Linked DNA regions of Homo sapiens. The protein of the gene in region 1 purifies or fractionates together with the protein of each later gene. This does not show direct contact. Each region holds a gene or a part of one and is shown on either strand. Other genes may lie near its edges.

The links.
Region 2: the proteins of GUCY1B1 (region 1) and MYCBP2 purify together in Homo sapiens (affinity purification with mass spectrometry; 2 studies listed by BioGRID and IntAct, with this or other methods). This does not show direct contact.
Region 3: the proteins of GUCY1B1 (region 1) and MXRA7 purify together in Homo sapiens (affinity purification with mass spectrometry; 2 studies listed by BioGRID and IntAct, with this or other methods). This does not show direct contact.
Region 4: the proteins of GUCY1B1 (region 1) and UACA purify together in Homo sapiens (affinity purification with mass spectrometry; 2 studies listed by BioGRID and IntAct, with this or other methods). This does not show direct contact.

Annotation. Positions count from the first base shown.
Region 1 is NC_000004.12:155,803,351-155,808,679, reverse strand, and holds the end of GUCY1B1 (guanylate cyclase soluble subunit beta-1), read right to left. Parts: intron 5,057-5,329; coding exon 4,916-5,056; intron 4,088-4,915; coding exon 3,933-4,087; intron 3,578-3,932; coding exon 3,451-3,577; intron 2,295-3,450; coding exon 2,271-2,294; 3' UTR 869-2,270; downstream 1-868. UniProt on the Homo sapiens protein: Mediates responses to nitric oxide (NO) by catalyzing the biosynthesis of the signaling molecule cGMP.
Region 2 is NC_000013.11:77,092,864-77,100,901, forward strand, and holds part of MYCBP2 (E3 ubiquitin-protein ligase MYCBP2), read right to left. Parts: intron 6,151-8,038; coding exon 4,507-6,150; intron 3,619-4,506; coding exon 3,449-3,618; intron 2,740-3,448; coding exon 2,495-2,739; intron 470-2,494; coding exon 302-469; intron 1-301. UniProt on the Homo sapiens protein: Atypical E3 ubiquitin-protein ligase which specifically mediates ubiquitination of threonine and serine residues on target proteins, instead of ubiquitinating lysine residues.
Region 3 is NC_000017.11:76,707,247-76,716,240, forward strand, and holds the start of MXRA7 (matrix-remodeling-associated protein 7), read right to left. Parts: upstream 3,720-8,994; 5' UTR 3,701-3,719; coding exon 3,359-3,700; intron 2,313-3,358; exon of another isoform or gene 2,252-2,312; intron 1-2,251.
Region 4 is NC_000015.10:70,759,913-70,767,759, reverse strand, and holds the start of UACA (uveal autoantigen with coiled-coil domains and ankyrin repeats), read left to right. Parts: upstream 1-4,201; 5' UTR 4,202-4,352; coding exon 4,353-4,430; intron 4,431-7,847. UniProt on the Homo sapiens protein: Regulates APAF1 expression and plays an important role in the regulation of stress-induced apoptosis. Promotes apoptosis by regulating three pathways, apoptosome up-regulation, LGALS3/galectin-3 down-regulation and NF-kappa-B inactivation.

The DNA.
Region 1 (5,329 bases):
TGTAAGAGGAACTAATTTAGCCATAAGAAACTTAAAGCCTAATAAGGAATCCTATATATAAACAGATAATATGTGAACCATTGTAAAGATCCTGGGACAATAGGGGAAGCTAAACTTTCCTAACAGGGAAATTTCCAACAAGAGGATATTGAGCTGAGTCTTAGCAAGAAATGAATTTGCAGCAGAGTATGGGTAGAGGGTATTCAGACAGAGCAGAGCATAGAATTACAAAGGTAGCAACTAGCAGATAAGGCTGGTTAAGGTGACAATGTTTACATGCTTTGCTAAGGTGTACAGACAATGAGTAGCATTTAAGTGATTGTACGCAGGAGAGCAATTTGGATTTGTAAAAGACCACTCTGGCAGCAATTTGAGAGTGTGGAATGGAGGTGGCAAAGGTAGGAAATAGACAGATTTATAGGGAAGATCTTGCAATTGTTCAAGTTACACATGATGAGTGCCTGGACTTCGAAGAGTGTTGGCGGAATAAAGTAGAGATTTAAAAACATGCAAGATGTAAAAATTGGAATATGAGGTATTCAAAGGCAGAGATGTTTTGTTCAATGACATTTCTCAAATATCTTGAGCAGTACCTACCCAAAGTAGATGCTAAATAAATATATGCAGGATTCTGGGAAGATGACAGTGTCAATGTAGTTTCTGAGTATTCCTAACTCTCCCCCCAAAATAAGCATAACAACTATCCCCACTTCACCTCTTTTCTTTCAAGTTACTCTTTCTCTAAGTATTATTTCTGCATTTGAATATATTTCTTCATTATGAATATCGCATATTTTCATTACTTGTATACATGTCTATCATCCCTAAATGATTCAGAGCTCTTTAAATAAGCTGATGACATTCAATATTTAACTGTTTCCCCTTTCCATGCCCAGTCTTTATTTCCTGTCACTCTGTTGGTATTAAAAAGAAATATAGCATTTAAGAATATGCTGTCTATGAGGAGTCAGTGAAAATTTATAATGGTAGCAAATAGGCAAAATTGTAAAATGTATTTACAAAATAATGGCATTAATAAAATGAAAAATAATGTTAATATTTTTATTGAAATAAAAACTGTATAGAGACACGTGAAAAAAATAATTTATTACAGACTCTTTTACACATTAACATGGAACATTTATACATATATCGATGTGCTGATATGAAATACTAAATTTAAAGGCAAACATTTTTACACAAAAGTAGTTGCACTCTATTTTATAAAGATAGATATTAATAAGTTATCAGAGACATTTAAGAGCTAGAGGCCAATTATTCCAACAGTAATGCATTCTATGCTGAAAGTAAACTAAGTTTTCTGAACATGATGTCCTGGATATAATCACATTCTTCTAAGCTAAGGAAAGGGAGCTCATTTCTGGGAATACAAGGCCAAGAAGGGCTCTAACAGCAGTATCCCAGCAGTGTGTTTCCAGATTTATTCTTGGATGTGGTTGGAGCTCCCAACATTTAGCCTGAACTAATGTAACAGCTCAATGTGAAACAATGCAGCTTTCTGTAACAGCTGCCTGTGGTTAATGAGATTTAATACAGGGGATACAGTTACAAATGATAGCATTTTAGAAGAATTATAATTGCCATATGATTTGAATTAGTAATCAAATACTTTAATAACAGAAACGTGTATTCTATATTTCTGAAAGGGAAGTAGCATACTTCAAAATAGTCACTATTTTCTTAGCATGATATGTTAATTCTTACTTTGGGAGTCTGAAAATAAATTGCATTTTTTCCCCTAAAACTTAGAATTCACTCCTTTAGAAAATGATTTCTATAATGATATACACCAACATGATATAAACTTTATTACATTATAGTCATTAAAATATACATATACATATATGTGGAACACTAAACAGATTTGGTAAACATGATATAAATATACACATGGCCAAACACTGTTCAGTTTCATTTAACTAAATTCAACAAATATTTATTGGGTGCCTACTACTTGCAGATCACCATGTTAGGTAATGCTTGTAGTAGATTTTAAGACACATGAAGCTCACATCATCCACATCAAAAGCCAAACTTTAGATAATATACTAAAGCCTAAAAAGTAATAGAAAGCAGAGCTAAGGTTGAATAACGGATAGTGAGAGATATATCTAGAAGAAAGTCTTGGGGTAATGGACAAGGACAAAAGAAAATCTGTATCCATAGGGAAGAACTGCTCCTGGGCTTGGCACGTGTTAGGAGAAAACTGGAACCTAGTCTGTACTCCTCTTCACCCCATAATCCAAGATTCAGTCATCATCCTGCTTTGTTTCCTTAAATAGGCAGAAGAAAAGAGGGATTGATTTACAGTGATAGTGAGGTTTATAATATCAATTAAATATATTTTTCTCTTTATGAGAGTGTGATCCACGTTCACATCTACAGTTTCTGTAAATCATTCCCACCATAATTCTGGGAAAAACAGGACCGCACGACTAAGATGACCAATGTTTGAGGTAATTACGGCTTAGTTTATCAGAAGAACATCAATAAGCATGTCCACCTCATAGGAAAATGATTTAATGTTAAACCAGGTGAAAGAAGATAAATATTTCAAACCCTGGCATTCTATTCCCTTTAGAAGTTGTTATGCCCTAAAAGCATCTTTAGAGAGTTTATACACACTAAAAGAGAAATATGAGCATGCAGTCTTATCCCCCATGAGGAAACAACACATCAACAGGGTAACAAAGTATCAAACTTGCTTCTGATGCCACTCCTTACAAAAGGCTAGGAAGAGGCTAGCCATGATCTTAGTGTGTGCAAGGCCTCTATGAGAGGTGTGATTCCACTTTGGATGTGCCACTGTTCTGAAGTCCATTCTAGCACATGGGCTCTGCCTGGAGTATAACCATAGTAGTAGAAAGAACTTAAATCTTCCCTAAGGAATTAATCAGATTCTAGCAAGTTAAAAATCACTCATCTATCTAGGAGAAACACATGAGGGACTAGGATTTCCAAAATTCCCCAATCACTCCATAGAAAGATAGCCTGCCCCTTAAAAGGATCTTAAGCTTCATGGTTAAGAAACCTCCCATGAACCACAGCCCTTATCTGTGGTGATCTCAGAGCCAACTTAGAGAGCTGAGGAAAGGGGTCAGGGGAGCCCCTCACAGCCCACTTACCTTTGAGCCAGACTACAGAGGAAGAGCAAAACAACCACAACAGCAAGAAAAAAAGCAGCCTTCTCAATCCAGTCTGTTGGTTTTCATTTCATTAGAGGACAAAAATCACTAAAGTATCCCCTAAAAAGTACTTATGATTGTAATTGGCTCATTAATGTTCAATTATTTCCACTGCTTTACTTAGAAGTTAATTTCTGTTAGCAAGAATTCTTTTCAAATGAAATACATTTTCAGTGATTTTGCTTTAGTTTTCCATACTTATACTCTGTCTTAAGTACGCAAATTACACTTTGATTAGTCATACCTCTGTTCCTGTATTTTTTCTGGATAGAAACCAAACTTGCATTGGTTCTTTTTTGCCCTTCATGGACACTGGGCCTCTGTGCTCCAAGTGGAATTGTGGATCTGAATTTTCTGGAGACATAAGACATCTAAAAGACAAGGGAAGGGGAGTAGAGAGAGAAGTATACACAAGTTTTATAGAGAAGGTGACATGTATCATGTTATAAACCAAGATGGCAAGAACAAATGCTGAAGTTGTACTGAAAGGTAACTCAAAGCTTTAGAAACAATGATCATATCAGGATTTCCTAAGATGATGTGAAATCATATAAAATGGAAATAATGACACAATCTTCTCAAATAAAAAGTAAACAACTCTACAAGCAGTGGGGAAGAGTGAAGGTGATAACTCTGTTAAAGCAACAAAATCTCTCAGAGAATTAAACCACATGCAAAGACACATTTTCTTTGCAAATCAGTAAATACCAAGACATTTTCTCTCACCTGTATGTATATTCAGACACATTTATTTTTCCCTTTTCTCCTGTGGTTTCTGTTCGGCTTGTGAGGTTGACAGTATTCCCAAAAAGACAGTATCGAGGCATCCGCTGTCCTATGACACCTGTAACTACCTCTCCAGTGTGTATCCCTATTGTTATCTGCAAAAAAGAAAGCTTTGCTTCAATCATTTTGATCACTAACACATGAATTTTTTTTTTTTTATTTTACTTTAAGTTCTGGCATACAGGTGCAGAAGGTGCAGGTTTGTTACATAGGTATATATGTGCCATGGTGGTTTGCTGCACCTATCAACCCATTATCTAGGTTTTAAGCCCCGCACGTATTAGGTATTTGTCCTAATGCTCTCCCTCCCCTTGCCCCCAAACTCCCAACAGGTCCCGGTGTGTGATGTTCCCCTCCTTGTGTCCATGTGTTCTCATTGTTCAGCTCCAACTTATGAGTGAGAACATGTGGTGTTTGGTTTTCTGTTCCTGTAACACATGAATTTTTGCTTACTTTATATTACAGAATAATGTAGAGTCATCATATAACATCGTAAGAGATGTCTATAAGAATTTCAAGCATATTATGGACAACTTCAAAAGCCCTCCATGAAATCTCTATCTCCCCAGGGAAATATCCTATCTCAAGAGAAACATTTGAAGTCTGAAGATTTCAAAGATGTGAATCTAGTAACTTACATGAGACATGAAAGAGGTTTTAAAAAATAAACTAGAAGGTACAAGAGGTTTTTTTCTCATCCCCATGACTTTCAGTACATGAAACGGACTAGATAATTTCAAACAGGTAGATAAATCTCCATGTCTATGAAAGAATGTAGTACAGTGGGCTGGATGAAATGCTATAGTCTTTGTTGTCAAGATGCCCTTCTTTATACACGTTAATGATTTTCCGGACAACGATATGAATCAATTGTCCAAAAAGGTTTACATACCATTATTACAATATCTACTTCATTTACTAACCTGAACAGATTCACCATCTACTTGAACCTGGCCAGCAATTTCCATCATGTCCAAGGCCAGGTGGCAGATGGATCGTGCATGGTGAATGCATGGCTCTGGTAAACCACTCACTGTCATATACTTGTCACCAACAGTCTCCACCTAACAGTACATATATTTAGATGTTCACGGTTAGCATAAAAAAGACTGTTTCATTTATTACCCTAACAAAAAACATATTTTTTCAAGTCTACCAGCAACTTTAAGCTTCCCTCCCCCTTTAATTCTCTTAAAATTCTAATATATTCAACTCCAACAAAATGAAACCTTGCAATTACTTATAATTTACACACATGATGGACACTTGGGGTCTTTGATGACGGGCAGGTACAGACATAGAATTATTTTTCCTTTAGTAAGCAATTAATTTCTCAC
Region 2 (8,038 bases), on another chromosome or scaffold:
CCACTGCTCCCATGAAAACTCAAAGTAACCCTTCCCTACTCTGATTTACTACAGCATTAAGTAATGTCATATAATGTAATCTTTAATTCCTTCACTAGTTGATCTCTTCTCTCCAACTAGTCTGCCTCTCCCATCAAGGACCTTACCTTAGTCATACATGTATGCTTTTTCTTACTGCTCCAGCAGTTAGCAAAACTGGCTCACAGATGTATTAAAGAACTTCTACAGGACTCTTTTCTAGTTCAAAGTCTTTCTTCCACCAAACACTAGCTATTCAACAGACAGGAGAGAACTAAAATACCTTGGTGGCATAGACTTCATATTGCTCTCTGGCTCTTCAAATACATTAGGACTTGCATCAGGAGTTACTGATATATACGGGGCAGGTACAGATGTTGAACGTAGATATCTCATTTCATCCTGGAATAGATTGTCATCTTGATAGCCCACAAAATTTTCATGATGATGCCTGCATTAAATCAAACCCAATAACTTAAAGCATGATGGCAATACAGATCCTCTCCATTTTTAATCTCTTTCATAACAGGAAAAGCAGCACATGTAAATCATAGTTAAAGGCAAAGCATTAAAATAATCGTAGATGTAGGTAGGTGAAAATAAAAGTCTGATAATTTTATTCATCAACATTCCAGGTACCACGAACATTTCAAATCCAAAATTGAACTCAGTTTCTTTCCTTTTGAGAACTTTTCCATCTTCCAGTGTTTTGGTGAATAAGCCCACCAACCATCCAGTTGCTTAAGCTAAAATATTTCCAGTGTTGTAGTAGGCTTAGCCCTCTATCATCATCATCTTTCAAGCCCATGATATTAGGTTTCCTCTCAGAGCCATTCTCTCTTCTCATTCCCTATCATCACTGCCTTGGTTCATGCTTATTATTTCTTGCACAGACCACTGAAATACAAGCAGTTACTTTTTTGGGTAGGAACATACATAAGATCATATTTGAAAAATATTAGATATATGAAATTTTCTGTGGTTCAGGGTGGAAGGGGTGCCCATTCCCCAGACAGCTAAAAAGAAAAAAATCTATAATTATGCTGTGTTAGCATTTTTCACGTTTTACAATTTGATTCTTTCCTTTTCAAAATGAACAAATAGTTGCTAACCTAAGTCCACTGAGTGGTGTGATTCACACTAAAGATCTATTGTATTTTGGCATACTGATGATTTCCACCTCAGTCTCAAATGTACTTAGTCTGATATTTTCATTTTTGTTGCTTATTCATTTTATTGTAATAGTAAGCACAAAATTTTAAAAACCATACAACTCTGCTACACAAAGAGGACAATTTCCAAAATGGAACTGTTGGTCGGCAAGCCATGTCAGTGGGCAATATCTAGATTACCTTCATTTGTCAGCTGATGAAAAAAATTTGGTTTTGGTATATGAAAGGCTCTTTTGGAGTGTCAGTGCATGATGTGTGAAAGTACAGGCTGCACCACTGAGGTCCAATATATGAAAACAGAATACTAACAGGTTTCTATCTCCAGTAATGCACTTTTATCTAGTCTCCACATTAGCTTCCACATTCCACAGTGATTTTTTAATTGCAAACCAGTTCATGTATTTCTCTGTTTAAAATTCTTCCACTGTTTCCTCTGCTCATGGGATAAAATGCAATCTTAACCTGGGCTACAGAGCCCGACATTACTTGGGTGAACCAATCACTTTGAACGGGCTTTCACATATTTCCTCCAGTAGCCAGTCCTTTAACAACCCGTGATTCCTGAAATGTGTAATGAGATTTCATTTGTGTCTTTACTCACCTGGGTTATTCTTCCAAGAGTCGCTTTCTTCCTGTCGCTTGCCTGACAGATTTCTATTTATCCTTTGAGACTCTACTAAAGGCTCAGACCCTCTGGGAAGCCTTTTCTGATTTCCTGGGGAAGATTCAGATACTCTCCATCTTTTATGCTCTAACAGCATCTTACATACATACTTCTATTGTAGCACTCCTCACATGGCATTTCAAATGTTTCACTAACATGTCTGACTTGACATCCGAGTATGAGTACATAGAAGCCAGGATTTTGTTATATTCATACATTCAGGGCCTAGCACAAGGCTGGTAGGTGCCCAGTTGGTATTCATTTAAATGCTAACAGAATGAATAATTTACGAAATAAAAGACTGCTAAGGAAACACACTTTCTTTACACTTCAGCATTTCGCACTAACAGAGTGAAGTCAGCCTACCAAAGAGTAAAAGATAGCTATAGTCTTATTTTCTAAGACATGTTGTGTATTAATACAATGCAAATTGATGAAGCATTTTTATAGTTTTTTAAATACCTATTACCATAAAGTCATTATGTCAGTCAAGGCAACTCAAAAAATAAATGCCTGGAAGTTTGTTTATAGTACACAATAGCTAATAAAGTGTAGGTCAAATACCGAACTACCCTAGATATCAATAAACAATCGCTGTTAATCCAAAGGTGATTAAAAAACAACAGCAAAATTTTATTACCTAGCTAATGTCTGCAGGTAGAGACAAGGCATTTTCACAGGAAGATCCTCAGAAATGCCTTCTTTTACACTGGGCAACTGAGATTGGAATGGCTTTGCAGGATGGTAACACAGAATGCTCGGTTCTGCTGCACTGCTCAGGGACAGCAGGAAGAGTGCATTGGCTTTAATCACCTGGTGAGCTTCCATGGTGGGCAAGGCACGAGGGGTCTTGACTTGCATTGGTTTTCTCCTAGATTGTTTGACCTGGCGAAGAAAAAAATCAAACTAATCTTTTCTGACTTACATTAAAATCCTTAGTTTCTTAAGCTAAGTATTTTGAGTTTCCAATAAAAATTATTAAACACTTGTAAAGCTATTTTAAGATAATAAGATTATAAAAAACAACATTCATTTCATATTCATCCTGGGCTGACCAAGACAATTTTGTATCAAACACAAACTATACTTCCTTTCCTTCTTCAGAAAAATTTAACACCTAACTAGTTAAATCTAAATGTAATTCATTTTTTTAAAAAGTAAATCATTTCAGTGCGTGTATTCAGTGAAATTTTTTAGTTAGGTGCCACTAGAGTGAATAAAGAAAAGAGAGAGTAGATATGGAATAGGAAAACAAAGGAGCCAAAAAAAGAGGAAAAGAGAAAGAAGGTGAAAAGGAAAGCTCTCCATAGAGAGAATAACAGACAATTAATAATAAAGAGTTACACAACAAATATTTGTCAATAAGGCATATGTAGCAGAGGTTATCTAGTGTTATTCCAATATATAGTTAATTTTTAAAATTAAAAGCATTTGACTTAGTACAAATATTAAATTTGTATATGATTTCCATTATAAAAGCTGATCTTTTAATATCAACTATGTGGAATTATCTGATGTAGTAAGATTATAACAAGGTATTTTTATACAGTGTATCCATATCATTAAAAGTATAGCTCCAAATGGAATAAAATACCTTCTCCCTTGCAGCAGCCTGTTTTTCGCGGAGGTATTTTTCTCTACAGCGATCACATACCAGATACCAAGTGCTTCCTCCTATGCCACCATCACCACAGTTACCAGCCCATCCTCCACAAAAATGCCCAATGCTATTGTAACCTTGTCCACCAGCATATCGGCCACAACCTTGAAACAATACCAAAAATAAATATTTAACACTCCAAGTGTCCTTAATAGTTTGATCCTTATTACTCATACATTAATGACAGATTTACCTTCTCAAAGAAAGCAAAATACTGAAGTAGATATCTTATTTTTCAGGCTATTAACTATATCAGAAAAATAGCTTACTTGATCAAAAAGCAATCAATTAAATGATGCCCCAAATATGAGAGATACTTAGTTTCTAATCAGGCATATTAAAAGAGAGATAGAATATAGGTATATTTAGATATACTTAATTATGTCAATAAAATTAGACAATACAAGTATAAAAGTTCTATAACAATGATATATTTTCAGAAATCACATATTCATAAGACATTTGAGGTATAATATGTAGACAAAGAAAAAAATTAACCAAATTTGTATTAGGTGAATTTGGAATATTAGTCAATGTTACAGAAATCATTACATTTACTGAAAATGCAGTCTTCTGATAAAACAATATCACTTCCGTAGGAAAAAGCCTATAGAAATCAATCTAATCTAATTTAATTTGCAATTCTGAACAGGAAAATAGTAAAATCAAAGGAGATGCCCTGTGTGTATGGGCATGCCACTGTTTCTGCTGTGTGAGACAGACACATTAATGGCACACCCTTTGGGTAACACATAATATTTTTTAAAACATGCTACATGAAAGTGAAATAGCACTAAATGACCTGGCCATCATAATATTAGAATTTATCTGTTTTTCACAAAACCCTGTACTGATAATGTACTTTAAAAATGACATTCTAAGATACTATAAATTCCCTATCCTTTGACAAAATTCATAGAACAGCTCAAATAAAGTGATCTGGTTCATTAAAGAAAAAAGCACTTATACGTACATTCAACAGTATCATTTACCTGGGTGAGCTTGTCTCATGTGATAGGTCACCGGGTATGGATGTGACTCCCCACACAGTTCACAGATGGTATCTTTCTCTGGTCCTCCTACTGCCAGCTGGGCCATCTCTCCAAACAAATTACCCCTGGGCCTAACTTCTGCCTTTTCTTTTTTCTTTTTTTCCTTTTTGGACTTCTTATTCTCTTTCTCACACTCTTTCTTTTTAAGAACTGCACAGGAACCAGGACTTGGAAAAATCATATTCTGGGAAGCAGCTTTGATAGTAGCCAAAGAGATGTCTTCCCAAAAAGCCACTAAATGTTGTAAAGTTAAGGGAAGAGGAGACTTAGACTTCATTGTGTTATGCATGGACATTTCAAAAGTGGTCTCGGTTTTCCCATCCTCACATTTTTCATGCAGAGGTGGTTCCTTAAGCATAGACAATACCTTGTTTTTGTTGATGCTACCCATCTTAGATATATCTGGTCCATGGGGTGCAATATTAAACATATTCAGTGCAGATGATATTTCTAATGAATGTCTATTTTTTAACTTGGTTTCTTTTTCCTCTGTAGGTTGTTGGCTATTTAAACTACTCCTTATAGGAGCATGTTCTTTGGAAAGTTCAGGATGAAACTTTAGGAAAGAAGAACAAGCCATTGCATCATGTACTATGCCTTCATGCCAGAGGAAGGAAGCAAACACAGCTCTGGCACATTCGGCCACAGAAGGAGACATGGCTTGCTTGGCTGGCTCTAAAGGCTTGGATCCATCTCCTTTGAAAAGAAAACTCGATTTTTCTTTTTTGGGCCTGGTGTGTCTATTAGCACATTTTCGACTTATTTTGGGAGATGCTCTCATTTCCTGTTCATCTTTCAGTGGTGCTTTTCCAATGCTAAAATGAACTTTATTTGAACCTTCATCCACACTCTTAAATTCACTGCTGTCATCGCAGGTGCTGTCTGTTAGACTATTTGTTTTTAAAGTACTTGAGGTGCAGACTTCGACCACCTCACTGTGGAGGTTTTCCTGTACCACATGGGGAGAGGGAGCTCTATTTTCAGATCCAGGGGAATCTGTAGAATCCTTTGGTACTGATTTTGGTTTTGGTGACGTTGACCGTCCTCTCAAAGGTTCTGTGAGGGGCATTTTCTTCTTGCGGAGGGTATCTGGATCAAGTGTGTAAGAGTCTGATTTAGAACGTTCCCGAGGAGGATCAAGCTTTGTCTTAACAGGAGCAGTACTTTTTTGAGGTAGATTTTTATCATGTGGTGAGGAGGAGCGTGGAGAACTAGCACCCGATGGGCTAGACCTATTGGCTGGGAGAGTCTTTGGCTTAGGAGATGACAACCGAGAACCTGGTCCTGGGGATTCAGCTCTGGAGCTAGAAGGCATCCTCCCATCAGATTTCAATGTCTGCAAGGTGTTATGGTTGGGGGATAATGACCTACTGTGGGAATCTGACCTCAACTTTGCAGCATCAGATTTTAAGATGAGGGATTCACTAGCAGATAAACTTTCTGTGCCCCTTGGCTTCTTCTGATCAGCAGTAGTCCGGCTCATACGTCCATCAGGTTTAAGCGATCTGCTGTGTTTAGAGGACAGCTCTGATTTTCCTGATGTAGAGGCTGGTTTAGAAGATGTTGAGATGTTTCCTCGATCACCTGTATGGTCCATTTTACAGTGAAACTTATTAATAAAATTATAACTTACTGATAATTTAGCCACTAAACACTGAAATAAAAAAACATAGCTACAAAATTTATATTGTTTGTCATACATACTAAAATACTTGAAGAATAAAGGAAAGAAGGGGGAAATATTTCTAATAAAATTTCTACACATCATTACACAACATTACCACCAAAAACTATTTTCATGGACGCAAAACAACAGGTTGAACAAATCCAGTGTGAACTATCAGTGATATCTCAACCTCTGCCCTAGTGCAATAACTAGTTAGAATTTAAATTCAGTGAGGGACTAGAAAGAGACAGAAATTAATCTTTTGGGGAATAAGAAATTATTTAATGTGAAAACTTGTATTTTAAATGTAGAGTAGAGCTAAATTTCCAGCAGAGTGATACCTCGCATCCTTAGGGCAACGGTATGGGTTTTGTTGAATTAGAGAACTGAATTTATGCATAGACACAATTATAATTTTTAAGTGTATGCATACAATTAGGCTAACAAAGAGTTGCTTAAGAGGCACTCTGTTTTATGATCAGATTAGACTAGTTTACAATGAGCACATGAATGCCCTGAAGCTGTTATTTAATTATTTATAAACAGGTTACACTCCAAAAGTTCAGGAAGCTTAGCTGCTTAGAACTCAGAGCCTGTGTTCCCTTGGAAACCACAGAAACGGTGGATCCTCAGAATGAGTGGTAAAAGTCTGAACTGTGGACCCTCAAAACAAGGAGTCAGGAGAATGACAGAAAAACAGGATGAAAAGAAGAATCACCTCCCTTTTCTAAGGCAAAGCATTAGATGTTTCTGCATGGACATTAATTGTTTTTAGCACCCTGCCTTCATTCAGTGTCTCTCCTTCATTCTATTTTATGCTTTTCTTTGAGGCATTAGAGCCAGGCTGTCTGTGACCCAAGTAAATGGTACAAACTTCAACATCACCTTTCCTCCTTAAAATAAAAACTTCTACTCTTAGTGCAAGTGATACCAGTTAGTTGTTAGGAGAAAAGCAATCTGACTGAAGGGTTTCAAGTGGTATAAAAAACTGAAAATCCATAAACCTATCTGGAAGTATTTATATTTTTTCAAAGACAGTTCCTAGGAAATTAAGGTAGATTTGTTAACTGGCTATAACTGCATGTTATTATTTTTTAAAAGAAAAAAGGATGTGAACAAATTCAGATGATGTAGGAAAATGTTTTTTATGCTTCCGTGCATGTGTTAAGTGTGTATAGTCACGCTCTATTTCTCTATGGCTCAGGACAGTAGTGCTGGAGAATCTGCCCCAGTCTTTGTCAAGGGCAGGTATTTTTGTCTGTTACTCTTCACTGATGTAATACCAAGAATGAATCCAGGAATACAGTAGGTATTCAATAAATATGTGTTGAATGAGTAATATATTCCAATTTTCTTGATTTTTTTCTTCTGCTACTCCCAAGTATTCAGCTTCTCCAGAAGTCTACTTTTTACAATTAAGGCTCCCAAGGCCACAGGACAGAGGTGACATTAGTTATTGATGTGCAAGGGTTAGATGCTTGCAAACTGAGTAATTACATGGTGAAATAATAGAGTATGGCAAGTACTTTATACAGGGCACACTGATGAACTAAATGTTTAATTGCAACATGCCAATATTTAAGATAATTTTTCCTGTTCTTTGGATGAATAAAAGTAACTAAAACATAATGCTTTTTAGTTTCTTGCAAAGCTTCATTATTCAATCATTAACCTCCTTTATCATATTATGTGCTCTGTTTTATAAATACAGTATTAACAGATGGGGCTAAGTTTTGAAAAAAGGGTTAAAAAAATCCCAATTTAGAATTCTAACTATCAATGCTGTCTTGGGAGAGCACAGATAAA
Region 3 (8,994 bases), on another chromosome or scaffold:
GTGCTTCATGACACCGGCCCACTGCCTTGCAGGAAGTCCCTACTCTTTTTTTTTTTTTTTTTTTTTTTTTTTTTTTGAGATGGAGTCTCGTTCTGTTGCCCAGGCTGAAGTGCAGTGGCACGATCTTGGCTCAACTGCAACCTCAGCCTCCTGGGTTCAAGTGATTCTCCTGCCTCAGTTTCCTGAGTAGATGGGATGACGTGCACGCCACCATGCCTGGCTAATTTCTGTATTTTTAGTAGAGACGGGGTTTCGCCATGTTGGCCAGGTTGGTCTCGAACTCCTGACCTCAGGTGATCCTCCTGCCTCGGCCTCCCAAAGTGCTGGGATTACAGGTGTGAGCCATCGCGCCCGGGCTCTAGTCTGTCTATGAGCAGAGCTAGGCCCCAAGTACCGAGATACTTGAGTCCTGGCACAGACAAGAAATTTAACTCTAGTGCTATTCAAATGACCCTTGACGCTTTGCCAATTACCAATGTTTGGGAATCCGACCATCCAGCCTTGCTCCAATCCACAAGTCCATTAGGTAAGAGGCCTGGCAATCCTAAAACCCCAACCTACACAGGAGCACCAAGAAAGCCCTGAGTCCTGGCCTGAAAAGAGGCCGGCTCCTGTTCTTGACTTCGTTGGCTCATGATTCTTTGCGTGAACAGGCCTTGCCTATAATGCTTCCTCACAGCCCACCCTGTGCTAATCCTTAGGAGAGAAAAGAGGTTCTAGCAGTATCATTCCGCTTCTCCTCAGCCTCCCTGCCCTGGCCTGTGCTGCCCTGGGGAAGCAAGAGCTGCACTGATCTCATCCCCATTTCTTTGGTCCATTTCCAGGGTCTCGGCCTATAGTAGCCCCTCCCCACTACTTTGTCCTTGGCCAAAGAGGGCACCGTGCACTAGGGGACGCTCCTGAGCGATCCCCAATAGCAGCTGAAGGCTGCTTCCCGGGGCGAGAGATCCTTCTCAATAATCAGCTTTGTAGTCAGAGGCAGCAGCTGCCCCAGCCCGCCCAGGCCTCCCTGGGAAGGGAGAGGACTGGATTAGAAAGGAGGCAGTTAATGGAAAATGAAGAGGGAGGGGAGAGGTGAGTTACACGCTGCTCCCCAGGGCAGTGACTTCCGAGCTAACAGCAGGTGGAGTTGCCCTCCTCCCTCGCTGTTGGTGGGGTTCGCTTAGGGACGGAGGGAGAAGGAGGCTGGCAGAGGGCATAGCCCCACTTCCCAACCCTGATTTGAGTTATCTTCCCCAGGGGGCCTTTCTCCCTATCTGTCCTCCAAGCCCCAGCAGTGTGATCATCAGAAGAAAGCACTGGAAGCTCTTGGAAACGCTGGAGTCCACTTCAGGACAATTTGTTTTCCTTTCTTTTTTTTCTTGTCACTGACTCGAAGCTCATCAAGACAATTTCTAAGCAGCTTCTTAGGTTAATGCCACCACTGGGAGTGGGTGGGATGACACAATATCTGTGTCCCCACAGCACCTGGCTTAATGTTTGCAGGCAGGAGTTTTGGGGGAGCTTTGGCCAGCTCAGGAAGGCCTGGGGACTTGAACCCAAAGGGGAAGGGCACTGACTTCAATTGAATTCTCCTGTGGGGTGGGTTCTCTCTGGAGGGTGCCTTAGCGGGAGGACAGACACAAGCCTCAAGTCATCCTCACTGGCACCTATGTCATGGGGGCTGCCTGGCACGCGAACCCCCATACTGCCTTGTCCTTCAGAGCACCCATTCAGCTTCAGAGGACGTGCATTCACCCAGACAGTGGCAAATTATGCGAGTGGCCCTATTTAAACACCACTGAACCTATTCCTGTAGGTACCATGTGCTGAGAGCCGAAAGCCTTGTAGAAAGTTCTTTAAGCGCTGTGCCCCACAGGATTGAGCTAAGACAGGGCGCCGCTAAAGGACATTTTGCACTTCAGTCCAGAGCCTGGTGTGGGTGATAAAGGGCCAGCCCTGTAAGGCCAGGACTGACTGAGTGTGCATGACGGCTCCAGAACTGTCTAAAGGCCTCTCCTGCTCCCGCGAGACCTCGATGGAGGCAGGAATCCCAAATATGGGAGCAAACACAACAGATCAGCACATGTCCAAACCGCGCCCCCTCCACCATCACCGCGTGAGGTCTGGAAGCCCACCCCAAGCAAGAACGGCAGGGCCTGCCCCTGCTCCACCCCATTAAATGTGGCTGGTTAGAATCCTCTCTAATGACACAATTAGTCACCCACTTGTCAAGCAAAGCGCCTGCTCAGAGGGGGTCTGGCGCACTTACTCAGCAAAGAGAAATGCCTCTGAGCACAGCCTGGCTGCCTCCTCCTCCCCCGAAGGGCTTCTCTCCAGGGTAAACCATTGTGTCCAGCACAGGACAGAGTGGGCACGCAGACACGCAGGCACGCTGACAATGCGCATCCCGGCTCTCCTCCCTTCCAAGAAAAGGAGCTCAGGGGTAAGAACAAGGGATTACAATCCGACTCGGAGACCCTGGCGGTGGCCTGGACCGGCCAAGCGTGGTGAACTCCAGGGAACATGGGCACACAGTGTAGGGGCTGGGATGAGTGGATGAGGGAAATCCGACTCCTCTCAGATATCCACAGGCAGGACAAGGTGGCCAAGGCCGAGCTGATGGACAGCATGGCGGGAGGCCTGGGGCAGAGGCAGGGAGGGCCGCTTTGGGGTGCTCACTGGTGCTCCAGGAGGGCTTTATCCTGCATCTTCACTCCATCCAGGCCCAGCTTACCTACAACCCGGGGGAGTGGGGGTAGGAGGGTGTTAGATGTGTAGCTTGAAAACGACAATAAAAAGGACTGCTGGGATCGGGTGCCTTTTCTTTCAGTCCCAGCCCACGGGCTTCACAAAACGCCACAGCACTGACTCTGAAATCTGGACTTCAAATTGGCTGAAAAAGAAAAGCCAGCTTTCCTCCCTCGCCCCCCGAAAGTCCTACTTTTTAAACATCAAGATAACTCTCATGGCAGGCCTGGAAATAAGCCACAGGCACGTGGATTTGGGAACCGGTGGGCGGGAGGGGTCAGAAGTGGGTGAGGAGCAAAATTCCAAGCCCTGGTCCCGAGGCCTGGGAGCCAGCAGCTGCGGAGCACGCCCTGGGCTGGGAGAGGCCGAGGGGAGGGGAGAGCAAAACACCTCCAAACAAACTCCTTCGGGCTCGCCCCTCGCCACACTTTCTGGGGGAGGGCGGCGAGTTTGCGGGGCTGCGGCTTAGCATGGCGGGACCTGCATTTCCTGCGGGCCGCGGGTTCTGCGCTTCCTGGGGGCAGCCTGGGCTGGAGGCCGCGGCCCCGCTCCCTGGCTCGGCGGGGAACGGCAGCGGCAGCCGGAGCCCCGGGGGTGGGGAGGGGGCCGCGAGGGCCCCGGTGCGTACCTGCCTCGCCTCCACCGCCTGCTCCTCCGCCTCCGCTGGCGCCGCCGCGGGATCCCCTGGCCCTTCGGGCTCCCCCGGTCCCGCAGGCTCCCCGAGCTCCCCCAGCCCCGCGGGCTCTCCAGGCTCCTCCGGCCCCGCGGGCGAGGCCGCCGGCTCGGGGGCGCAGGGGCGGGACGGCGCCGGGGCCCCGGTGGCCTCGGCCGGGGGCGCGGGTTCCGGGGGCGCGCGGGCAGGCTCCGGGCTCGCGGCCGCCCCACGCCGCACCAGTAGCCAGGCGAGCAGAAGGGCCAGCGCGGTGGCCAGCGCAGGCAGCGCGGCCAGTAGCTCGGCCGGCGCCTCCATCGCGCCGCGGCCGCCGAGTGCGGGCCAGCTGGGACCCCGAGGGAGCCCGCCGCGCCCCGTCGCCGCGCCCGGTCGCCGCGCCCCGCCTCGGGGCGGAGCCCCCATCGCCGCGCCCCGCCCCCGCCCCCTCCGGCCCCGGGAGGGTGACGCACAGGCTGCGGGCGGGGGTGTTGAGGGGGCAGAGCCCTGACCACCTGGGAGGCACAGGAGGGCCAACCCCTGCCCGGCCTGGGCAGCCTTGACGCTTTGGGGCACAATTTAGCTCAGGTTCAATTTGAAATACTGTATGAGGTGCCCTTAGGTTGTCATCTTTGGCCTTAGTACGGCGGTTCGTCTTAGAGCATTTTGGAAATGTGGGAATGCAGAGAGACAAGCAAACCCGGGAAGCTTCATGGAAACGGCAGCCTGGATTGGCTTGTAAAGCAATCATAATGCCGGATTACGTTCAGCCACTGCCGTTTTTATAGGCATGTCAGGAGTTGCTTTTAATCCTCAGGGTTGCCTTAATGCACTTTCACAGAGGACATCTCCAGATCCCGGCCAGTGAATGCTCCCTTCGGAGCTGAGGCCAGCAGCCTTCAACACAGGCCTCCCTGTTAACAGTAACATGGCTCCCCCGCCCCTAGACCTGAAATTCAGCTGCAGGTCCTTGGTCAACGCTATTCCTCTTACCAGACTTTCTTCTTTGCACAATTCCAGAATGCATGCAGGGTGGGAGGGTACAATGAAGGAAATGAAGGCTATTGTTTTTGTTTCTCCAGATCCTCCCAGGCCTCTGTTGCTGAACAGTGGATTTTGAGATAAACACGTTGTAACCAAAAACATACTTTCCTACCACTCCCCACCCACTCTTTAGTTATTTTAAATAAACACAGGACGGGCATGTCAGGTATCACGCCAAACATAAGGCCTAATGTTAAAAAAAACACGGTTCCAGTTTTTGCTGAGGATGCCTTTAATACTTTTTTGGGAATATTACAGTGCCTGAGCTGATCTGTGATATAAACCAGATATTAGATGGAGTGCTTCTTTTTAAATGAAGATACACAAACGAGACCCCTCAGCAACAGGGAGAGCTGAATTCTGCTGCACTGCACGATATTAAGCGGGCCATGCACTTCCTTTTAGTGGTGGTTGATGAAAAGAGCCTATAAACTATAAAATGTGAAATAGGCTTTATCTACGGGCGACTAGCTTTTAACCACTGTGGAAGTTTCAGCCAGTGTATGGGCCTATTTTTTTTCTTTTGAGATGGAGTCTTATTCTGTTGCCCAGGCTGGAGTGCAGTGGCGCAATCGCGGCTCACTGCAACCTCCACCTCCCGGGTTCAAGCGAAACTCCCACCTCAGCCTCCTGAGTAGCTGGGATTACAGGCGCCCACCACCATGCCCGGCTAATTTTTTTCTGTTTTTAGTAGACAGGGTTTCACCGTGTTGGCCAGACTGGTCTTGAACTCCTGACCTCAGGCAATCTGCCTGCCTCAGCCTCCCAAAGTGTTGGGATTACAGGCGTGAGCCTCCGCGCCCAGCCAATTTTTTTTTTTTTTTTTTAAAGAGACAGGGTCTTTCTTTCTTTTTTTTTTTTTAAAGAGACAGGGTCTCACTATGTTGCCCAGGCTGGAGTGCAGTGGCTATTCACAGGCATGATCATAGCTTTCTGCAGCCTCGACATCCTGGGCTCAAGTGATCCTCCTGCCTTAGCCTCTTGGGCAGCTGGGATTACAGGTGTGCATCAATGCTCCTGGCCCAGGGCCTTAATTTTGTGCTCCATCCCATTGTTTTAAAGTGTAAATACATTTTTTTAAAGTCCTGTTCTGCTGACAAAGTACATTGTTGACTTTCAAATGAGTAAGAAAGAAAATAAGGACAAAACAATGCCAAAAACACAACTCCAAATCATGTTGCTTTATTTAAAATGATGAACAAGTTTCACCCAAGTGAAAGTTTAAAATACCAACCCAATAGCAGATCCACAGGCTTTCATGGCAGACCCCATGGCTAGACGGACGCAGAACTAGGAGACTGCTCAGTGTTCTGACAACTCCAGGAGGCACGAGTGTGCAGAAGACAGTCCCAGTTCTTCTGTAGCATCCAGTCACTTTGGAGACAGCTGGCCAGGGCTAGCTCTCCTCCCAGGAGGTTCACTGGGGCTTAGATGACATTTCTTTTTTTTTAAAGACAGAGTCTCGGTCTGTCACCCAGGCTGGAGTGGCTTGATCTCAGCTCACTGCAACCTCTGCCTCCTGGGTTCAAGTGATTCTCCTGCCTGAGTTGACCAAGTAGCTGGGACTACAGGCATGTGCCACCACACCTGGCTAATTTTTGTATTTTTAGTAGAGACGGGGTTTCACCGTGTTGGCCAGGCTGGTCTTGAACTCCTGACCTCAAGTGATCCACCTGCCATGGCCTCCCAAAGTGCTGGGATTACAGGGGTGAGCTACGGCGCCTGGCCGAAATTTCTGAACAATGAGACAAAGTTGAGAGCCACCGCCTGGGGGTGCAAGCTCACCTAGTTTTGCTGCATAGGATGTCACATCTTGACACAAGCTAGTGGGAGGGGAGTGTGGAAGAAGCCGCCAGACTCCACTTCAAATCTACCAGCAATACCAGTACACACATCAAAAACAACTTACTCGTGGAAATACTACAGACAATCTAAAGAACCTACAGCTGGGGCATCCTTATACGCCTTCCTCCTACACAGCATTTTTTACATTTACTGCAAAAATTTTGTTCCATCCTATACTCGTCTAAAGTCCTAAATCCAAGGCTCAGTCTCTAGTAAGCTTATAAAGCATTTGCACCAGCAACCTTCCCACAGATCCTTAGTTTTGCTACTTTATGAAGAAGCTGTTACTACCTTAAGTATACATTGGTGTTAATTATGCTCTTTCATGTAGATCCGTTACACCTGCATTTAAGAAGGTCTGCACTTTCTTCTACCTGCCCTCACCAGCGGCCCTGTGAACAGCCGCAACAGCCGCACATTCACTGTCCATTAAGCTTGTGGAGCTTGTCAGGGACCTGGGCTTGTCACCGTTATCTCCAGCACCTCAAGAGCAGTGCCTGGCCCTCAAACACCTATTGAACGCTTGAATTATTAAGACACGGACAGCTGCAAGAATACAGCAAAATGTGAATGTCCCTCTTTTCAGTGGCTCTCCCCTCAAGGATGTCACCCTAAACATCCCAGTACCACTAATGGCAGAGGCATGTGTGTGAAGCATGGATTCTTCCAGCTGATGGTGAAGCCTCATCCCCAAAGACCCAGGGTCCTCCTGATGTTCTAGGTCCCCAACTCTTCTCTCTCCCACTCTGGTCCTTCCATCAGAAGTTAATAATCCAAGATCCCTTCTTCCAGGACCCAGCTCTTTGGTTTTAAGATCTGCTGTCATCTTGGAGAATCATCCCTGAAAATAATCTAACATTATCTCCTTCACTTTACTGTTGTTGGCACCATTCAATGGAGTAGCTCACGCCAGATGGGAAGAGGAGTTAACTTCTGAACAAGTGGTCTCTGGGTACCCACTCTTCCTAGTCTACCTTGGCCACCCGCCACCACTCCACTCCTTTTCCACACACGGTTTCCCCACCTTGCCCCTGTTGTGCTTACATAACGGACAGCCTGGCTAGCCCACAGAGACAGTAACGGGGGTTGGGGAATAGGGCTGCTGAATCCCTGGCCTGGCAGGAATAAACAAAGCATGTCCCAGGAGCACAGAATCTGTACTATCCAGACACTGTACTATCCAGAGCTGACTTGGGCCTATCAGATATGTTATTCCCCTCATTTCTGGAATACTGTTATCAAACAGGAATCAACTTTAGCATCTGGAGAAAGAAAACTGGGTGGCTAATCTTTATTTTCTAGATTATTATTTTTTTGAGAGATGGGATCTCACTATGTTGCCCAGACTGGTCTTGAACTCCTGGACTCAAGCAATCCCCCTGCCTCAGCTTCCCAAAGTGCTGGGATTACAGGTGTGAGCCACTGCACCTGGCCTTGGTGGCTAATTTTTAAAATTCAAAATTTCTGCTCCCCTATCCAGACCACTGGCAACGTGTCCTACCACGCCCCCTGGTGGCAAAGAGCCTTTTTGGGCTGTTTTTTATTTTAAACTGAAGTTTAGAGGAGTTGTTGATAGAAAACTGAAAGGAAGGTAAGGAAAAAGGGCAAGCGTGGCAGCACAGGAGCAATGCTGGGAAAAAGAAAAAAGCTTTTTATAGATGGCAAGAAAAGTCTTTTTAAAAAGCAGGAGTAGCAACACCACTCAGATATTACTACCAAGAGATTATACATTCAGAGTTTGACTTTACTCACACCCAAACACATCCTGTGCCCACCACAGAACCAAGGGGGCTGTGGGCGTGGGGGTAAGGAGGGAGAGCAGCCCCCATGGCAGGCAGGCAGCACAGTTCTACCTACCCAGCCACATACTGGGGTTGGCATTTGAGGATGCAGAAAATTGAACTAAGACAAAAATAGAGAACCAGCCTCCTAGAGTAAAGCCACATGACCCAATGTCAGGAAATGACAGTCTGTTAATAACAGTGAGCAGAGACCTGTATTTTCCTGGTTACACCTGTTTCTAGTGGATATTTTGAGAGGCAACAGCACACAATTCTAACACATCCACACACAGCCTCCCTGCCTGTGAACACTGCAGTGAGAGCTCCTTCCCACCTGCCTGCCAATGCCTCCAACGCTCCAGCCCAGGCAGTGCTTCCAAGTGCGCCCCATGGCCTTGACAACCCCTCTTATTGAAGTTTAGTTGAATTTAGGGACAAATTAAGGCAAGCAGGTGAATCAAGAGGGCAAGAGATGGCATCTGCTGGTCAATCCCCAAAAAGTCATCCAGTTAGTTATTTAGAAGTATCAACAGACTGCAAAGACTACAGGTGCCATCTCTGAATTTACTCCCCGTGTGTAACACAAGTCACCCACTTAACGTCTGTAGGTCAAACAAATGGGGAACGCTAATCTCAGAGTACCTCGCAAAGTGAGCACTTCTTATGGATCCCATGGTGCGGAAGAATGGAGCCTATTCATACTTTAAGTTCTGTGGTAAGAGCACATTGCACACCGTTCCCACTCTATGCAAACAAAAAACCCCAATGTATCACCCCCCCACAAAAAAATACACTGTACAAAAACACCCCTGAAATTTCAGTCTCTATGATGATGGAGAAAAAGATAAGGAATCCTAAGACAGACTGAGCAGTGGGTGATGGTGATGGTGCTGGGTCACTGCCACTGAATGCATTTGTGGGCTGATGATGACATACAGGAAGAAG
Region 4 (7,847 bases), on another chromosome or scaffold:
ACTGGGTCCCCAGGGCTACTCGGAGCAGCAAGAAGTTCTGAAAATGAAGAGGGAAGTCATTGGATATAGAATTCATAACTAAAGCTTGTCTGGAAGGAGATCTTTATGTTTGAAAAGGACTCATTTTATGTGCAAATTTTAGACTTTGTATGTCAATTCTTTTTTTTTTTTTGAGATGAAGTCTTGCTCTATCACCCAGGCTGGAGTGCAGTGGCGTTATTCTGGCTCGCTGCAACCTCTGCCTCCTGGGTTCAAGCGATTCTCCTGCCTCAGCCTCCCCAGTAGCTGGGATTACAGGCTTCCACCACCACGCCCAGCTAATTTTTGTATTTTAGTAGAGATGGGGTTTCACCATGTTCACCAGGCTGGTCTCAAACTCCTGACCTCAAGTGATCTGTCCACTTTGGCCTCCCAAAGTCCTGGAATTACAGTTGTGAGCCACCATGCCCGGCCTGTGTGTGGATTCTTTTTTTTATTGTTGTTGTTTTTGTTTTTGTTTTTTGTTTTTTTTTTTTTTTTTGAGATGGAGTCTTGCTCTGTCGCTCAGGCCGGAGTGCAGTGGCGCCATCTCGGCTCACTGCAAGCTCCACCTCCCAGGTTCACGCCATTCTCCTGCCTCAGCCTCCAGAGTAGCTGGGACTACAGGTGCCTGCCACCACGCCTGGCTAATTTTTTGTATTTTTAGTGGAGACGGGGTTTCACCATATTAGCCAGGATTGTCTCGATCTCCTGACCCCGTGATCCACCCGCCTCGGCCTTCCAAAGTGCTGGGATTACAGGTGTGAGCCACTGTGCCCGGCCCTCTGTGTGGATTCTTTATTCTTCTTCTGAGAAATCATATTTGTCATCGTTTTTGCCGTTATCATCATCTGAGTTATCAGTGAGCATCTGTCGACTGTGTTCTCTTCCCTGTTCTGGCAGGTCCCCTGGGTATCCTCTGCCCATCTGGTATTACTTCTCACCTGTTGGTATTCATTGAATGGATACTCAACCTTGGATAGCCTCCCTTCAGGCAAACTTATCTGTTGATCTTTTCCTTCCCTAAATACCATCTGCAATCTTACTACACGATTCAGTAAGCGATTGTCCAGTTAAACTGTATGTGTTAGCATACAGCTTACACATTTGTTATCTAATCCAGAACACAAGTTCCTTGACAGCAGGGATCAAAATAGGGGTGGTAAGCAGATCAACTTGCTCCATTTGTATTATTTGAGATTACCATGTGTATATATAATCTAGTAAAGTAATTTTAAAAAATGCATTACCCTTCCTGGTATATATTGTAAATAAATAAATATTGGAAAAAAAAAAGAAGTAAAACAAAAAAATATTTTATATAGGCTCAGTGTGATAACAAACAAAAGGTCATCTAGGTTTGATAAGTGCCCTTTGCTCTGAAGGGAAGATAAAAATAAATAATAGTGATAAGAGTTAACAAAATAAAACCCAACCTGTCTGGTTGAATGCTAATAATAGTGACTTTACTTCATATAGGCAGCTTCCAGATCAATGTAAAAAAGCTTTACTGAATATTCAGACCAGTGCTATTTACTTAGCTGCTCTCAAATGGGAATAAGCAGACATCAGCTATCAAGTTTCTAGGCTGGAAAAATCCATAAAGGCCACTGGACACAGACACCATGGGGACATCATCCAGACAGTTCATAAAAATAACTTGCCCAACATTTTTGGAACCTGATGCAAGCTATACTTGTGGTTCTGTCTGTTTCCTTTGCTTTATCCAGTAACAACAGAAAAGGAGGCCAGTCACCAGGACTATGATAACTTGGATGTTACAGGAGACAACCAGTACAACATAACACTGCAATTAATAACTCAAGAGCCAATTACTGAGACAGTGCTCTTGTAAGCAATTAACATTTAAGATTCAGTCAGAGGACTAGATGGTAAATGGGTGCTTATCTTAAGCCCAGAGAAAGGAGTTGATTGAGACACAAATATTTGAGCAGGACCATAGCCTCAGATCATTCCATCTGTGTTCACAATAGGGGGAATCCCAATCCTGTGTCACATAAATACATAGAACAAACAACCATAATTTGCTATAGTAGTCAATAAGAATGCATCAATTCATTCAGAAATATTTATTAAACACCTATAACATGCTAAGCATTCTAGGGAATTCAAATATATGTCAGTTATTCCCCAATTTTAAGTAAATTGAAGTCCAGTAATGAAATAAGGTTTGCTCAGCTCATATGTGTTAGTATCATATGAGAGGTATAATTGCTGTAACTATTTGGAGGATGGAGAGATCACTTCCAGTTACTTGATCAGGGAAGGTTCTATAGAGAGGAGGGCACTTGGAAGGGACATACACTTAAAAACAAACTTTTTGTTAAAGCATAACACACACATAAAAGAGAATATATTGCATACAGTACAGGCTCATTGAATTTTCACAATCTGAAAACACTAGATATGTAACCAGCACCCACAGAGAATAGTACAGTATTCCAGAAGCCCCCGACATCCCCTACCAATCACTCTTGGGGGAGTAGGATTTTCTGAGATGAATGTAGACAGACAGAAGATTATTGGGGGAGGGATCAGTATGCATAAAGATGTGGAAGTTGAAAGCCATGACCCATGTTTGGAGAATGGGCTGAAGAGTAATTCGCTTGGGGTGTTGGCTAGAGAACAGGGTCGCGTCCACGTTATACAGCTTTAAATGCAAAGAATTAGATTTTATTCGTTAGCTGCTGAAGGCTTTTGAGCAAGAGGAGTATTTTTGTAAGACTTATTGATGATGGCTGATAATTTATTGGTGATGGGACAATTAAGAGACTGAAGGTTGGGAGACTGGCTGGGAAGCTTCTGTAATAATAGTCCGGGTATGAGGTAATTTTGGCTCTGCAGTGGCAGTGAGAACAGAGTAACTGACCATACACAGACACTTTAAAGAGCCAACAAGAACTAAATGACTGGAGATCTAGAGGAAGGGGGAGGAATCAAAGAAAATTTTCTTCCAAAGATCTAATCAAGATGAAATTTAATAATATTTTTGGGTAGTTAGTTGTTATTTACTTGTTGTATAGGGTTAACACAGTCTTTGAATGCTGCCTCTCCAAGAAATTCTGAAAACTTTCTTACAGTATTTGAAGAAAACCTTGCGTTACTATAAAGAAACTCTAAAGAGAGCAACTGACCTTTCAGACAAAAAAGAGTCCTTTGTTAGTCAGAAAATGTGGACCGTTTGTCTTTTCAAATGGATGCATGCTACGATAAACGTTTTGCTGGGGGGAAAAATGACTCCAAAGAAGACTTTTGAAGATGTCACCCGAACAGCAAATTATTGGGTGCTGAGCACCTTCCTGTTTCTTCATCCTCTTAAATAATTTTTACTAACCCAGATTTCTAGGTAAGATGATTTAACTTCATCGTATACGTTTACATGTAATGTGTTTCTACAGAAAACAAAAAACCTTTTTGAAGAAAAAAGGGCGTAACTTTTTTTGACAACTTAAATCACTGGCTGTGGGAGTCATTTTTAATTGATGGCACCTCTTCTCCTCCCTCCCCGCCCCCATTCCGTCCCTTTGCTTCCAATACGGCGGATTCTTCACTCAACAAATAAACGAGCACGTAACTTGTACTGTAACTTACTATAACGTCTTTCAAGGTCTTTCTTAACTGTACGTTTTTCTGCACAATCAGCACCTTATTTCTTAGAGACTGTTTATTTCTGGAATTTTTGATGCGTGTGGTGGTTTCCAGGCACCAGGATTTGGTAGTAAAACAGGAGACTGAAAAGAAGTTGCTCCTGAAAGCTGTTCTGTGTGCAGGTAACCAAGAGTCATTTCTAAGACCAGACGGAAGGGAAGGAACTTTACTTGGTAAAGAGCGCGTGGGTGGAAAGAGGAGGGGAGTCCGGGAAGATGAGAGGTGGCAAAGGCGGGACCCCGTGCTCTCTCTAGATCTTAAGCTCCGGGTGGGCGGGCGCCGGTGGCCTGGAGCCCGGCCTGCGCGCATCTCCACGCCTCTGGCCGCCCACCTCCTCCGCCCCTTCCCGGGCTAAAGTTCCCAAACTTTTCCTCCAGCTGGGAGAGGAAGGGTGTTACTCAGTTTAAAAGGGAAGTCCCGCCCCATTCCCGCATTCCGATTGGTCGCGGTTTGCCACGCCCCCGCCAGGGCAGCGGGTCAATTGGCTACGGGAGGGGAGCCCCGCCTCAGGCCTGTCGACGTCTGCTGCCCGGGGCCCGCAGGTGGCAGGCAGGTGGGGCTGGTACAGCCCGCGCCGCCTCTGCTGCAGCCGCTGCCGTCTACTCCTTGCGCGCTGGCACTCCGCAGCCTTTAAGGTTCGCGCGGGGGCCAGGCAAGAGTTAGCCATGAAGAGCCTCAAGTCCCGCCTGAGGAGGCAGGACGTGCCCGGCCCCGCGTCGTCTGGCGCCGCCGCCGCCAGCGCGGTGAGTCCCGCGGTCCGGGCTGCGAGGCGCTCCGCTCCGGGAGCAGCGCAGCCCTCCTTTGCTGGCGAGTTCGCGCGCCGCCTTCCTCTGCTTTTCCTCTGCCAGTTCGGCTTCGGCGGCCCTGGCGACTCCTCCCTGAGGCCGGAGACTCCGTCAGCCCAGAGACCCCGGGGATCCTCCCCGCCGCCGCACCCGAGCCTCTACGGGTCTCTTCCCCACCCCTTTCTCCCAAGCCTCCGAACTTCTGGAAGAAACCTCAGTGGGGCGGTTCTGGCCCCCTCCTCCTAAATCCAAAGTTCCTCGATTGGCACCCCTACTCCGCTCTTTCCGTTGACCCCCCCTCGTCGCTCTCCTCTCCCGGCGCTCGCCCTGCTGCCCACGCCCGCTCGGCCGTGTTGGCTCCCCAGTCCCCGGGGCCGGGGCTCGCACCAGGTAGGGCAGGTGGGCAGGGCTGCGCACCCCGCGCCACCGTGCCCGGACTCCGGACCTTCCCCGGGTCTGAGACAGCGTCAAGCCCTGCCGGGCTGGTGGACGTCCCGTGCTGGCCGCTGTCGTTGTCACTGGGAAGTTTGATTCCCCAGCGAGGCAGAGGGAATCGGCTTAGTCGTAAAGACAAAACCCCACAGGGTGGTGACCCTAGAGGTGGTGAAGTTGGGAGGGGTGGTGGTGATGTGGGTTGTGTAAATCGCACCTGTGGGGCGGGATCCGTGCGGGGCTCTTTCGGTGCTGACCTGCAGCGCGGCCTCAGTGTGCGCGCCAAGGAGTAGTCGGGGCCTCTTTAGTTGGCAGGAGAACAGAAATCTTGAGAAACAGCCTGACCGCAGATGTTGTGATTTAGATAATTTGTCACGTTACAAGAATGGCGATATCATCAAAATTCTATATCATTAAAATAAGTGCCACTTACAAAGTCTTGGAAGAGTCGAACGTAAAGGAGTTGTTATGCTCCAACTGCACAGTTACCTAGTTGGGGTAATTAAAATGAACCTTTACAATTCAACGCAGATTTTACCAAATGATTATATTCTTTTTATCAGAATACTAATTAATCTGCTTCTGCTTTTTTGAGTTAATTCAGTTATGCCTTTCTCTCCACCTATATCGAGGATTATTTTACTTGGACATAAAGGAAATTGTGGAGGAACTACCTAGACTTAAATTCCTATTTCAAAAAAAGAGAGTAGATTCAGATGACGTAATTGATGTTCTTTGATAAAGCATGAAGTCGTTTTATAAGCTCATGGAAAACAGAGATTACTTTGTTTCACTTTTTTTTTTAAAAAAAGTAACTGGCAGAAATGTCATTTAGTGATATTGGAGTTCATTACAGTTAAGATTCTACTTCTGTAATGCAAGTTGTGTTTTTAGCCTTATAGAAGATACAAGTTTCTAGATTTATTAGCTTTGTTTTCCCTGGTTGTGTTTGATTTGCACTAAGGATGTAAATCCCACTTGGAGGTTTATATGCCTTAATTTTATCCAGTTTTCTAGAAATGCAGAGTATTTAGTAGGTATTATCAGCATGATAGTTTGCATTTTATACATTTGGAACATAAAGTGCATATCTCTGAGCTTAAATCTTTAGCACTCAATTGAGCGTTCTATTTTTCTCAAAATGACATAATAAAGATAAACATGATATTAACCTATTTATGTAGAAAAAGCAAACATTTCTGTTTAAATATTAGAATAAGTTCTGTACAATTTAAAAATAAAAGCGTAATGAGGAATAAAACTTAGAATGAATTCTGTAAAATTTTAAAATAAAACTGTAGTGATGAATAAAACCAAACCAAGCATTGATAGAATAAAACACATGTACAGGAGAAATAGACCCTTTCTGCTTTTCAATCTATAAACCATAATCCCAGATTTGGTCACATGTATATGTATTTATTGTATGATTGGGCCACCCTTTTTTTTTTTCTTTTTGCCTTTAAAAACAGTTATTTTTTGAATAGGTAATATAGCACATGGTTTAATATTGGAAAGGAATAAAAATATTTACAACAAAATATCGACACCGTGTTTCCCTAACCCCTGCTTCAGCCACCCTGCCCCCACTTCCTGAGGCCACTGATGATACAGTTGCTTGCATGTTCCTCCAGAGAGAGCTTAGCATATACAAGCAAATATGAATATAGTCACCCTTTATAGAAATGCTAGCACACTGTAGCTGCTGTTTCATATCTTGGACTTTTTTTTTTAAAACTGTAAATAGAGGCTCCCCATTCATATCTTTTGCTGTAATGTACAATTCTGTGATTAATATTCATATTTCAAGTGTGTGTCTGTACCTGTAGGATTAATTCCTAAAAGTGAATTGCTGGGTTAAAGGATATGTGCATTTGTAATTTTGAAGGATGTTGTCAAGTTTCCTTTCATGCATCATGGAACCAGCATATGAGAAATGTTTTCCAAGCTTTTAATAGAAGTCTGTTCAAAGTTTTTGACCTTTGCTAGCCTGATAGGTAAGAACAGTTTATCCTTTCCATTTTTCTTTTTCTGTTTTTTTTTTTTTTTTGAGACGGAGTCTCGCTCGGTCGCCAGGCTGGAGTGCAATGGGACCATCTTGGCTCATTGCAACCTCCGCCTCCCAGGTTCAAGTGATTCTCCTGCCTCAGCCTCCTGAGTAGCTGGGACTACAGGCGTGCACCACCACGCCAGGCTAATTTTTGTATTTTTAGTAGAGACAGGGTTTCACCATGTTGTCCAGGATGGTCTCAATCTCTTGACCTTGTGATCCACCCGCCTCGGCCTCCCAAAGTGCTGGGATTACAGGCGTGAGCCACTGCGCCTGGCCTGTCCTTTCCATTTTTCTATTGGGTTGTCGATATTTTTCCCTATTCATTTGTATATACTTTATATCAGGGAAATTAGCCCTTTTCATTTGAATAATATTATTTCTTAATTGGCTGTTTGTCTTAAGACATTTTTATGGTGGCATTTGCTGTGCAGAGAAGGTGGTTATTTTTATACAATTGAATTTATAACCTTTTATGATTTTTAGGTTTATGTAATATCTTGGCCTTTCCACTCTGCGATATTTAATATTAAACAACCCCCCTCCCCAACTTTCTTCTAGTTTTTTTTCTTTTTTTACATTTAAGTCTTTGATACATAAGATACTTATTATGGTGTTAAAGTACATCTTACTTTCTTCTCTTTCCTCTATGGGTACTTAATTTGGGTCTTAAACTGTTCATTTAATTATTTTGGAAATAGTCACTATTTACTTTGCACAACTTTGATTTGAGATAAAATTTTAAAATGTTTATTTCATAAATAATTTCCTTTGTGTATTTAAGCTTATTATCTGAAGAAGACACAGCAGTAGACTGAGGTATGTGACATATGCAGTATTTTATTACATAATATGTGGAATACAGCATATTAGCTTAGCATGCTAAATTAGAA